Homo sapiens: one gene and its partners. The protein of the gene in region 1 interacts with the protein of each later gene in a biochemical or structural test. Each region holds a gene or a part of one and is shown on either strand. Other genes may lie near its edges.

Region 1 (3,744 bases):
TTATTTGTGGGAGCAAAAAATTAACTATTTTTTATTTTTTTTTGAGACGGAGTCTCACTCAGCCACCTAGGCTGGAGTGCAGTGGCGCGAGCTAGGCTCACCGCAACCACCATCTCCCAGGTTCAAGAGATTCTCCCGTCTCAGCCTCCTGAGTAGCTGGGATTACAGGCACCCGCCATCATGCCCACCTAGCTTTTGTATTTTAGTAGAGACAGGGTTTCACCATGTTGGCCAGGCTGGTCTTGAACTCCTGACCTCAGGTGATCCGCCCATCTTGGCCTCCCAAAGTGCTAGGATTACAGGCGTGAGCCACCATGCCGGGCCAGGAGCGAAAAATTAAAACAATTGAACTCATGGAGATAGAGAATAGAAGGAGGGTTACCAGAGGCTGGTAAGATTAATGGGGAGGTAGGTGGGAAGTGGGAATGATTAACGGGTACAAAAGAATAGTTAGAAAGAATAAGACCTAGTATTTGCTAGCACAAGAAGGTGACTACAGTAAAAAACAATTGGCCGGGCGCGGTGGCTCACGCCTATAATCCCAGCACTTTGAGGGGCAGAGGCGGGCGGATCATGAGGTCAGGAGTTCCTGACCAGCCCGGCCAATATGGTGAAACCCCATCTCTACTTAAAAAATATACAAAAATTAGCTGGGCGTGGTGGCATGCGCCTGTAGTACCAGCTACTCAGGAGGCTGAGGCAGGCGAATCCCTTGAACCAGGGAGGCGGAAGTTGCAGTGAGCTGAGATCGCGCCACTGCACTCCAGCCTGGGCGACGGAGTGAGACTCCGTCTCAAAAAAACAAAAATAAAACAAAAAACAAAAAAAAAACCACACACACACAAAATTTACTTGTACATTTTAAAATAACTAGAGTATAATTGGGTTATTTGTAACACAAAGGATAAATGCTTGAGTTGCTAGATACCCCATTTACCATGATGTGATTACACATCGCATGCCTGTATCAAAATCTCATGTACCCCATAAATATATTCACCTACTACGTACTTACGAAAATTTAAAAAATACATCAGTGTAGTGTGGGAAAAAACAGAAAATTTTTAAAAAAGAGTGAAAGCCAGATATGAATCCAGGCCTGTATGACAGACATGAAGTCCAGTGCTGAGGAGGCCTTTCTACGTTTGGGAAGAGGGGAGGGGCCACACTCGTTCGATCAATAATTCTATTTACTGAGCATTTTAGCTTGCTAGGGAGGTAATGATGGGAAAAAGAAGAGAGGGATTTAGAGGCAAATAATAATGAAAGCTTTTATCTATATCCCATTAAGCTTATTATTAGACAGTATGTGTCAGGCACGGTGACAAGTGCTTTCCAAGCCCACCTCCATTTGCTCTTCACAAGCACTATGATTTTCCCCATATTTCAGATGGGTAAACTGAGGCTTGGAGTTGCCATGTCCAAGGATACTCAGAGCGCTCGCAAAAGACTGTGCAATGTGTGCTTCCGAAGTGGGACTCACTGGCGAGAGAATAGCCCTGGAAAGCCGACAGAGACCCACGAGATCCCAGCACTAAGCACTCAGCACCGAAGGGAGCTGGCGCGCGCTCCACCTCGCGCTCCCGGGGACGTCTGGTCACGTGGGCAATGCCCCGCCCCTCGAGTCCGCCCCGCCCCCTCTCGCGCTCCCTCCCTCTCTCCCTCCCTCCCCCTCCCTCCCCGGCCCGGTCCGGCCCATCCCCCTCCCCGCCGGCTCCGTGAGGCCCTGCCGGGTCGGGCTGCGGGCGGCCGGGCGCGGGCGGCGGGACAGACGGGCGCACGCGAGGACTGACGGACGGACGCACCGAGGGCGGCGGGCACGCACGGCCCGGGCCGGCGCTCCAAGGCCCGCCCGGGAGGGCCGGGGCCGCGCTCAGGTGAGGGGACGGCGGCGCGGGCCCGTAAGGGGTGGGCCCGCCGGGCGTCCGCGGTCCTTGTCGGGCTGGCTTCGCGGGGAGGAGGCGCCGCCCGGGCCCGCGCGGAAAAATGGCGCCGGGCGACCGAGTGGCACGGTCTGAGAGCGGGCCCGGCCCGGAGCCGCCCCGCCCGCCGCGCTTGTGTCCCCGTCGCCATGTTGGGGAGCGGGCCCCAGGCCTGCGGGCGGGGGCGCTGGAGGGAGCGGCGGCCGGGCTGGGTGGGGAGGGTGCTGGGCGCGGGGGCCGGTGCACTGAGGGAGTGCAGGGCTGGCCGGGGTCTGCACGGGGTGGCGCTCCAGGCCTGGGGAACAGGCGGGAGCCGGTCGTGGGGTCGTGGTCAGGGTCGCGGAGAAGGAACACTGGGTCCGAAGGGAACCGGGATTGGGGTCTATGGGCTGAGAGGATGGCAGGACGTGGAACTGGGTTAGGCCTTAGGCGGTGTTAGAGCCCTAATGCAGGTAGGACCTGGGGATTGGGGTGGAGGCATGGGGGCCAAGCTCAGGCTGTCAGGGCTGGAGCAGTTCTTTGCTGGGAGGGAAGGAGGTGATTGATGAGGAATGAGGGCCCTTTGGGTACAGACGCTGGTTCAGATTGGGGCAGTCCTTGGGGTACTGGGGCTGAATTGCAAAGCTGTATAACTCCCAAGGCTCTGAAGACTTATGTCCCAAGCATCCTCCACCCCCTCTTGGGGGAAGCAACAGGAAAAAGGAGGTGTTTGATGAGAGAAAAGGGGGACAAAGGGAGACTGAGGTTTGGGTGCAGGAGCTGGCCAGCAAAAGAGGCACAGAGAGTGGAACTGGTTGGCAAGGAAGGAGAGAACCTTTATCAACTTAGGGAGTTGTGTGTGTCTTTAAAAGGAGGGACCTGGCTGTTTGGGGGCGGTGACCCAAGGTGTCTTCCCTGGAAGGGGACAGCCCACAGCTTAAGAGCAGAGTCACCTGGAGAGGTCATCAGAAAGGCGTTATTGAAGCCAGTAAAATGGTGAAGAAGAGTGAATGTATAAAAACTACAAAGGCCTGAGAGATCAAGTAAAGATTTCAAATCAGGTAGTGATTTTAGCTGAAACATAGAAAGGTAAAGTTGACTTTTCAAGATCTTACAAGTTAGTGGCAGAGGGGTACTAGAAATTGTCGGCTGCTTCCTCACTAAACACATTGCCTTAAAGGAATTTGCTAGCTGGGAGAAAGGTGTTAAGAAATGAAGCATAACATTCTTGTGATGAAACTAAAAGCAAACAAACAAAAACAACAAGAAATGAAGCATAACAGTATATACCAGATAACTATTAAATTTGTTTTCTTCCTGTAATGAGTGTGGCAATACAAAGGCTGAAGGGAATACAAAAAAGTATAGGCAGCCAGTTATTTGGTATTTCCTGGTTCATCTCTAATTGTGCAAAGAAGTTATCTTTGAGACCTTCTAACTTTCTAGAGTTTTAAGAGGTGCTCCGGCCAGCCACAGTGGCTCACGCCTGTAATCCCAACACTTTGGGAGGCCAAGGTGGGAGGATTTCTTGAGCCCAGGAGCTGGCAGACCCCATCTCTACAAAAGAAATAAAAAAAATTAGCCACCTGATGTGGCTTGTACTTGTAGTCCCAGCTACTCAGGAGGCTGAGGTGGGAGGATCGCTTGAGCCTGGGAGGTCAAGGCTGCAATGAGCCATGCTATGGTCATTCCATGACATTCCTGCCTGGGCGACAGAGCAAGACACTGTCTAAAGAAAAAAAAAAAAGAGAGATGCTCCTTCTCTTCTAGGTGTTTACCACAAAGGAACACAAAATCCTAAAAAAGAAAAGTGAAAAATTGTAGACACCCAGAGTCTCTATTT
Region 2 (3,744 bases), on another chromosome or scaffold:
GCTCACCTAGTCTGTAATCCTAGTACTTTGGGAGGCCAAGGCAGGTGGATCACCTGAGATCAGGAGTTCAAGACCAGCCTGACCAACATGGTGAAACCCTGTCTGTACTAAAAATACAAAAAATGAGCCAGGCGTGGTGGCGGGTGCCTAGCGTAATCCCAGCTCCTCAGGAGGTGGGGGCAGGAGAGCCACTCGAACCAGGGAGACAGAGGATGCGCTGAGTCGAGATCATGCCATTGCACTCCACCCTGGGCAACAACAATGAAACTCTGCCCCCCGCCCGCAAAAAAAAAAAAAGAAAAAAGAAAAAAAATGTTCCTCCTGCCCCTTGCTGTTAAACCTTCCCTGCCCCAGGCGACCACTAATCTACTTTGTCTCTCTGAATTTGTCTTTTGTGAATCCTTTGTGTAAACGGAACCCTGCAGCGTATGCTGTCTTGGGTCTGGCTTCCTTCTCTAGCCCTTGGTTTCTGTACTCTAGACCTGCCCCATTCCCTTCTGAAACTTGAAAAGGATAGGGGCATTTGATCAAAGTGTCTTGAACAGAATGAATGAGGTTTATGTTGACATTGACCCTTGGAGAAAAATAGTCAACCGAACTGCCTTTACAGTGCACAGGAGGAAGGGGATGGCATTGCCTTGATGAGCCATCATATTCCCTGGTTCTTTAATGAGGCCTCAGGTTTCTTTTGCAGCCTCGGCCCTGCCCTGTGTGTGCACCCCAAGGGAGAAGTGTTGCAGGGCTAATTTGCAGGCTTGCATTTGCTCAGGATAAAGTTCGAGCCTTGCCCCCACCACACCCAGCTTTGTGGGCATTCATTCTCTCTCTCTGGTTACTTCTGTCCTGGCTTTAGTCCTTGCTCCTCTGCTATAACTCCTTAAAGGCAGGGCCGATTTCACTGGCACGTTCATCTGACGTGTGTGCGTGGGTCCTGCAGGTATGTGACAGGGCACATCTGGGCCTGTCCTCCAAGTGAAGGAGATGATTACATCTTCCATTGCCACCCACCTGATCAAAAAATACCCAAGCCAAAACGACTGCAGGAGTGGTACAAAAAGATGCTGGACAAGGCGTTTGCAGAGCGGATCATCCATGACTACAAGGTACCCGGCGCTGAAGGAAGGTGGTGGCTTTTGTCACAACTGAGGGGAGGATATTTGTGTGCCTTTTTCTTGCATTCGCATACTTGTTAATTACCTTCACTTATGAGGATTAGAAAGCAGAAAAATAAAAGCCTAAAGTGAGAACTTAGAAGCATTTTCTTCAGCTGATTGAGGCTTTCCCCTGGCCGTCTGAGAGCAGCACAGTTGGAGCTGTTTCCATCAGTGGGCATTGGGGCCTGTGCATCACTGTTGCACACATAGGGGCTCCAGCACTGTGGTGGGGGGTGCACATGTGTGGGGGTCTGCTGCACTGTGGTGGGGGGGCACACATGCATGGGACTCTGCCACACCATGGTGAGGGGCACGCTTGCGTGGGGGTCTGTCGCACCATGGTGGGGGGCACGCGTGCATGGCCCTCATCTCACTGTTGTGCTTTGCCCACTCAGGATATTTTCAAACAAGCAACTGAAGACAGGCTCACCAGTGCCAAGGAACTGCCCTATTTTGAAGGTGATTTCTGGCCCAATGTGTTAGAAGAGAGCATTAAGGAACTAGAACAAGAAGAAGAGGAGAGGAAAAAGGAAGAGAGCACTGCAGCCAGTGAAACCACTGAGGTACAGACCCTTCTCTGAGCTCCATTGCCCACGTGTCCCGCTGGAGCTGCAGGGTGGCAGGCTGGGAGGCGCGTGTCGACTGTTAGGTCCTTCCTGTGGTGGTGTCTCCGTTCACACATGCACGTCGACACCACCTGCAGCACAGGGCGTTGGTGGGCAGCAGTGTGGGCTCTGCACTCTCTGCACAGTGGATGCTCTGGGGAGCTGGGGGTCCACTTAGACTCGGAGAGGGAAGAGAGGAAGACAGAAAATGGGACATGGGGCAGTCAGGACACAACCCGCTGATGTAAAAAGTGAGTCGAGGAGGCACAGGGTTGCCAGGCCTTATTCCGTGTTTGGTGGCCACTCTGCACATGATGCTCATGCCCTGCTGCCCTCTCTCCTTGGCGCTGCCCCTGAGTGCCAGGCAGTGCAGACTGAGCCAAACAAAACCCCATCCCTGGCCAGGCGCGGTGGCTCACACCTGTAACCCCGCACTTTGGGAGGCCGAGGCAGGCGGATCACAAGGTCAGGAAAGGGAGACCAGCCTGGCTAACACAGTGAAACCCCATCTCTACTAAAAATACAAAAATTTAGCCGGTTGTGGGAGGGGGCACCTGTAATCCCAGCTACGAGGGAGGTTGAGGCAGGAGAATCGCTTGAACCCGGGAGGCGGAGGTTGCAGTGAGCCTAGATTGCGCCGTTGCACTCCAGCCCAGGAGACAGTGCGAGACTCCGTTTCAGAACAAACAAAACCCCATCTCCGCCCCCAAGGGAGTGGCTGTGTCCTGGTAGGATGTGAAACAAAAAGAACCCAGACCCAAGCATGGTGTGCTCTGAGCGTGGCAGAGCTCTGAAGGGGAAGGAGCCTTGGGGAGGTGGCGTGTGGGCCAGACCCGCCCACCACAGGAAGGTGCTGGAAGAGGACCCGCCAGGCGGTGGGAGGAGGCGCGCTGTGTGCGGGTTTGTGCGGCTGTCTGGGGAAGAGATGATGGTGGCGTGGGTGTGGGCTGTAGCTGTAGGTGCAGGGAGAGCGATGACGAACGTTGAAGGCTGCAGCCCCAGAACTTGGGACAGGCGATTGTGACCAGTGAGGAAAAGCGGTGAATGGAGGTGGCTCTTGCGTGGGCTGCTGCCATGGGTGAGGCAGCCGGGAGCCGGCTGGGGACATACTGCCACTCTGGTGCCTGTCCCATATGAGAGCACGTCTGTGAGGTGGGTGCCGGATGGGCTGTAGGCGGAGCGTGGGGCCTGGGCCGCTTCCGCCACACACACTCGTGCTCACTGCACAGGTGGTTGAGAGGCAGCCACCTGCTGGACGGCGCCCCAGAGTGTCATTCGCAGGACAGAGGAGGCGCGGGCAGGGGGTGGCGTGGGTTTACGCCCTAGGTGGCTCCTAAGCAGAGCTCCTGGCCTGTTGTCTTCGGACTTGCTCCCGCTGGAGTGTAGCTGGTCTCACTGGTGTCTGGTGAGTTAATGCTTGAGTTCCATCTCCTAAGGGTGACACGGGAGGTTACCGCGTCCGAGACAGGCTTTGCGCAGCTGAGTTCCACCCCAGGAGGGGGCACCTGCCTGTGGCATGGCAGCAGTGGGGTTGTCCAGAAGACAGGCCTGATAGGGGCTCCTGCTGGGGCAGCCTTCCCTGTGCACCGGGGACATGCATGTGTTAGGAGGCGGGATGCTGAGGTGTCGGCATGTAGACCTGCTGTCCCTTGTGTGTTTGGTTCATGGACAACAATGGGCAGGGACATGCCTTCGTCAGCAACACCCCAGGAGCTCGCTCTGGGGGTCAGCCTTAGTGAGGGCTGGTGCGTGGGGTGGAGCACTGCTTTGCTATTAGCTCTGCTCTGCATCATGCTGTCAATTCTGGGAAATGGGGAAAGGCTCGCGATAGTGTCAGGTGGGGCGAGAAACGGAACCAGCTCCCTGTGTGCAGTCCCAGCTTCGTGAGGAATGTCGCAAACACGGAGACAAATGTGCCCAGGGAAAGCTCCAGAACACAGAACACTGCTGCTCGGGAAGACCAGAAAAACAAAACTTTTTAAAAT
Region 3 (3,744 bases), on another chromosome or scaffold:
TTGTTCCAGAGGAATCGTCTGGGAGAGCCTAGCTCTGTGTGTGTGGATGTGTGTGTGCACATGTGTGAGTGCAAAGCTTTAACAGGGAAAGGCAGCCCCAGCCCACTCCACACTGCACTCGGTCACAGACAGCGCAGCATTCCCTCCTGCCTCACACTCAGCAGTACCACGAGCTGGGGGTGCTAATCCCAAATCCACCACCTTGTATCCTGGGGGCTCAGCCTCTCCCAGCCAGTTTTCTCATCTGCAAAATGGGCATGAGCGCCCACCCCTGGAGGCTGAGCCCTGGAGCTCATTCAAGGCCTCGAGCCCACCACTCCATCATGACAGAGGCAGGGAGTAAGCGTTAGGTCTGACAAACCTGGAACCCACCGCCTGCCCCGGTCACGGGGCAGCACACCTGCCTGTGAGTAGCAGAGGTACTCAGACTCTCACCCTCACATCCAGGAGGGGCTAGGTCCATGCTGGCTCCCCTTGATGCCCCATCTCACTAAACATCCCTGCAGCTACATTGGCTTCTGAGCACCTCCTGGGGTGGCCAAGCTGCACCCCAGGCTGCAGGGAGGGTGGGCAGGAGGGGCTACGGATGGCGGGGGCTTCATTCATAATCAGCTGTTTCGATTTCCATTCAGCACAAATCCTTCACCCGGCCTGACAGCCTGGCTGCCGTCCCACCACCAAATTAATATCCTTCCCGGAGCTAATTTATAAAGTCTCCCCCTTCTCACTAGCTTCCAAACCCTTGGGAGGGCAATGGGTGGGGGCCCCAGCCATGCCCTCTCCCCCTTCTCGGTAGGTCTGGGCCTGGAGTTGGCGGGCAGTCTGGGATAGGAAGCTACCGGGCGGGATGGCAGGAGGAGGAGGGAAACTGACCCTACGCGCCTCTGCGCTGTCCTGCTCACAAATGGAGAGCCAGCCTGGGAGAACACCCGGGGGTGCCAGAGTGAGGGGCCCCATTTCTGGAATGGGGCCTTCCCAGGTCTGACGTTCTGTTCATACAGCCCCGGGGGACCCTGCCCACCCGGGCGTGGGCTGCTTTGGGGATAACAGGGTCCCAGTCTGTTTCCTGGGCGGACACACACCCAAGGGCCAGCGGCCTGCTAGAAGCCGCAGCCCGACGGGCGGGCGGCGCAGAGGCCGCTCGGGGCCCAGCGCGCCGTCCCGGTCCCCAGGCCAGGGAGGCCGGAGCCGCGGAGCGCAGAAGTTGCTCCTCCCGCTCCGGCCGGGTTCCTGTGCGGCGCGGCTGCAGCTGGGCGCCGGGGCGCAGGCGGCCGCCGGTGAGCGGGAGACCCCTCCTCGTCCCGGGCGAACCTGCCACCCGCCCCCCGGCCCCGCCGCCCGCCCGCTGCCCAGCCCCGCCCCGGCCCCGCGAAAAGTTGCCCCGGGTCGACCCTCCCCGGGCCCGGCGCCCGAACTCACGCGAAGGTCGGCGAGGGGTCCGAGCGGGGCCCGGGCCGGCGACCCCCCGCGCGCGCCGCCAACGCGCCCCCGGCCCCCTCCCGCCCGCCGGCCCCCGGCCCCCGGCCCCGTCCCCGCCCGGCCCGGCGAGCACTCACCGAGCGGCAGGAAATGTTTGGTGTCCATGTCTGCGACTAACTCATGCCCGGCCGGCGGCGCAGGCAGCGGGCGGCGGGCGCGGCGGCCCCCGGCGCGGCCGGCCCGGGCCCGGGCGGCGGGGAGCCGGCGGCTGCGGTGGCGGCGGCGGCGCGCGGAGGCCGCGGCGCGGCGAGTTGTTGCAAAAGTCGCCCAACAATGTAAACTACTTGTGTCTGCGCGCCGCCGCCGCGCGCGCCCGGCCCGCGCCCCCGCCGCCGCGCGCCCGCGCCCCGCTCCGACCGCGGCGCTGCGGCGCCGGCGGGGGGGTGGCGGGGGGCCCGCGACGGGCGCTGACTCGGCGCAGCGCCGCCGCCACCGCTCGGCCCGCGCCCCGCCCGCCCAGCCCCGCCCGGAGCGCGCCCCCCTCCGCCGCCGCCGCCCCGCGATCGCCGCCCGCCCGGCCGCCGAGTTGAGAGCGCCGTGCAAACTTGCGAGTTCGCCTCCGCCAGGGGTTCCCGGGAGCCGCGAGGAGGCGGCGTGGGAGGGGGCGGGGCGCAGAGGGAGCGGGGCGGGGGCGGGGGCGGGAGCAGAACTCCCTCCCCGGGCCCGCCACACACTCGCGCACACACACACTTGCGCGCAAGGGCCCGGAGGAGGCGGAGAGCCGGGCCGGGAGCCCAGCGGCCGGGCCATTGTCTGCGCGGCCACACAAAGCGGCCGGGCGGTGGCCGCGAGGGGACCCCGGCCCGGGCCAGGCAAGCGCAGAGCCGGGCGGGATGGCCGCGGCACCCATACCTCGCACCCCGCCGCGGCGGACACGTGGGGAAACTGAGGCCCGGGAGTGGCGATGTGCCCCAACGGCAGAGGACAAGCTCCTCGTCCGGGGAAGGTTTCGTCTTCCGGACGCTACCCCCGGTCCACCCCACACTTTCACGCCCTACCCCCACGGAGAGACCCACGAGCCCACCGGGAACGAGGAGGGGTGCGCGCTTCGCCTCCTCATCGACCCGCACTCCTGGGACCCCTCTTCAAAGGCACCAGGCTGGGCAGGCGCTGCCCGGAGTTGGACACAGACTTTGTGGCCGGTGGCTATTTTTATACCCTGGGTAGTTCTCTGCCTGACTTTTAAATTCACGATTTGTTTGAAAACGAAAGGAAGCACTCCTGCCCCGGGACAGCTCGGGCCGCCTCCGCCGCGCGCCGCCCGCCGCCCGCCGTCTCGGGCGGCTGGAATTCGGATTTGGGTGTGAGCTACCTGCGCGCCGCCAAGCCCAGCCTTCCTGAGCAGGCGCCGAGGCGCCCCGCCGCGCCCTCCCTCCGCACCCCCACCGCGAGCTTGCTGACCACCTAGACCTAAGGGCCCGGGCTGCGAGGCACAGGGACTGACCATTCACGCAGGCTGCGCGTGGTGGCCCGGGTCAGGGGACGCTAATGGGGAGGGAGGTGAGGAGGTGATGACCGCGTGTGGACAGCCATGACACGGCCCAAAGATAACAGCCCGAGACCAGAGAGGTGTCCTGCTGCCTGGGTGCCCCTCAAGTCGGGCCACCCGGAGCTGGGTTCCACGAGGGCTCCGGTGGCCTGTTCCGGTGGGAGGTCTTGGTTCCACTTGGGACAGAAGTGCCCTGGTTGGGCAGCCCACCCCCAGCACAGCCAGAGCCCAAGGCAGCCCTCTCCCCCTCCCCCTCTTCACTGACCCCTGGGCCCCTACCAAAGGCCACCCCGTCCCCCTATTCACACACCCTGTCCAACAGGCAGCCTGCCCCACTCCCTCCGGGATGAGGGCCACTGTTGACACCTGGTCCTCACCCACTGTGGTTACAGCCACAACAGACCCACTTCCCCACTGCACATGGCATGCCGGCCCAACCCACTGCCCTTCTAAAACTGAGTTCCTCCTGCCAGGGAGGGGGGCGGCAAACAAAGGATAGGACTGAGAAAGAGCCCCCGTAAGCACCAACATACACTGCAAAAGTGCCATGTGCCCGCCGCGTTCCAGGCCTGTCTCTGTGACTGCTTGGGCCCCTCCTGACTGTACTCAGGTTGGGGGGTTGGGGGGGAGTCCCAGATAGACAAGGCCTGGGCCAGATTGCAGGTCCACCTCCTACCAACCGTGTGGCCTAGCTGGGTCACTTCCCTCCTTGTATCTCAGTTTTCTCATCTGTAAAGTGGGAACAACCACTCCCTCCTCACTGAGTCACTGAGATG

The links.
Region 2: the proteins of NCOA6 (region 1) and CREBBP form a complex in vitro, tested with the Homo sapiens proteins (2 studies listed by BioGRID).
Region 3: the proteins of NCOA6 (region 1) and RXRA form a complex in vitro, tested with the Homo sapiens proteins (5 studies listed by BioGRID).

Annotation. Positions count from the first base shown.
Region 1 is NC_000020.11:34,823,605-34,827,348, reverse strand, and holds the start of NCOA6 (nuclear receptor coactivator 6), read left to right. Parts: upstream 1-1,697; 5' UTR 1,698-1,877; intron 1,878-3,744. UniProt on the Homo sapiens protein: Nuclear receptor coactivator that directly binds nuclear receptors and stimulates the transcriptional activities in a hormone-dependent fashion. Coactivates expression in an agonist- and AF2-dependent manner.
Region 2 is NC_000016.10:3,734,009-3,737,752, reverse strand, and holds part of CREBBP (CREB-binding protein), read left to right. Parts: intron 1-937; coding exon 938-1,103; intron 1,104-1,549; coding exon 1,550-1,717; intron 1,718-3,744. UniProt on the Homo sapiens protein: Acetylates histones, giving a specific tag for transcriptional activation. Mediates acetylation of histone H3 at 'Lys-18' and 'Lys-27' (H3K18ac and H3K27ac, respectively).
Region 3 is NC_000009.12:134,324,472-134,328,215, reverse strand, and holds the start of RXRA (retinoic acid receptor RXR-alpha), read right to left. Parts: upstream 1,762-3,744; 5' UTR 1,585-1,761; coding exon 1,557-1,584; intron 1-1,556. UniProt on the Homo sapiens protein: Receptor for retinoic acid that acts as a transcription factor.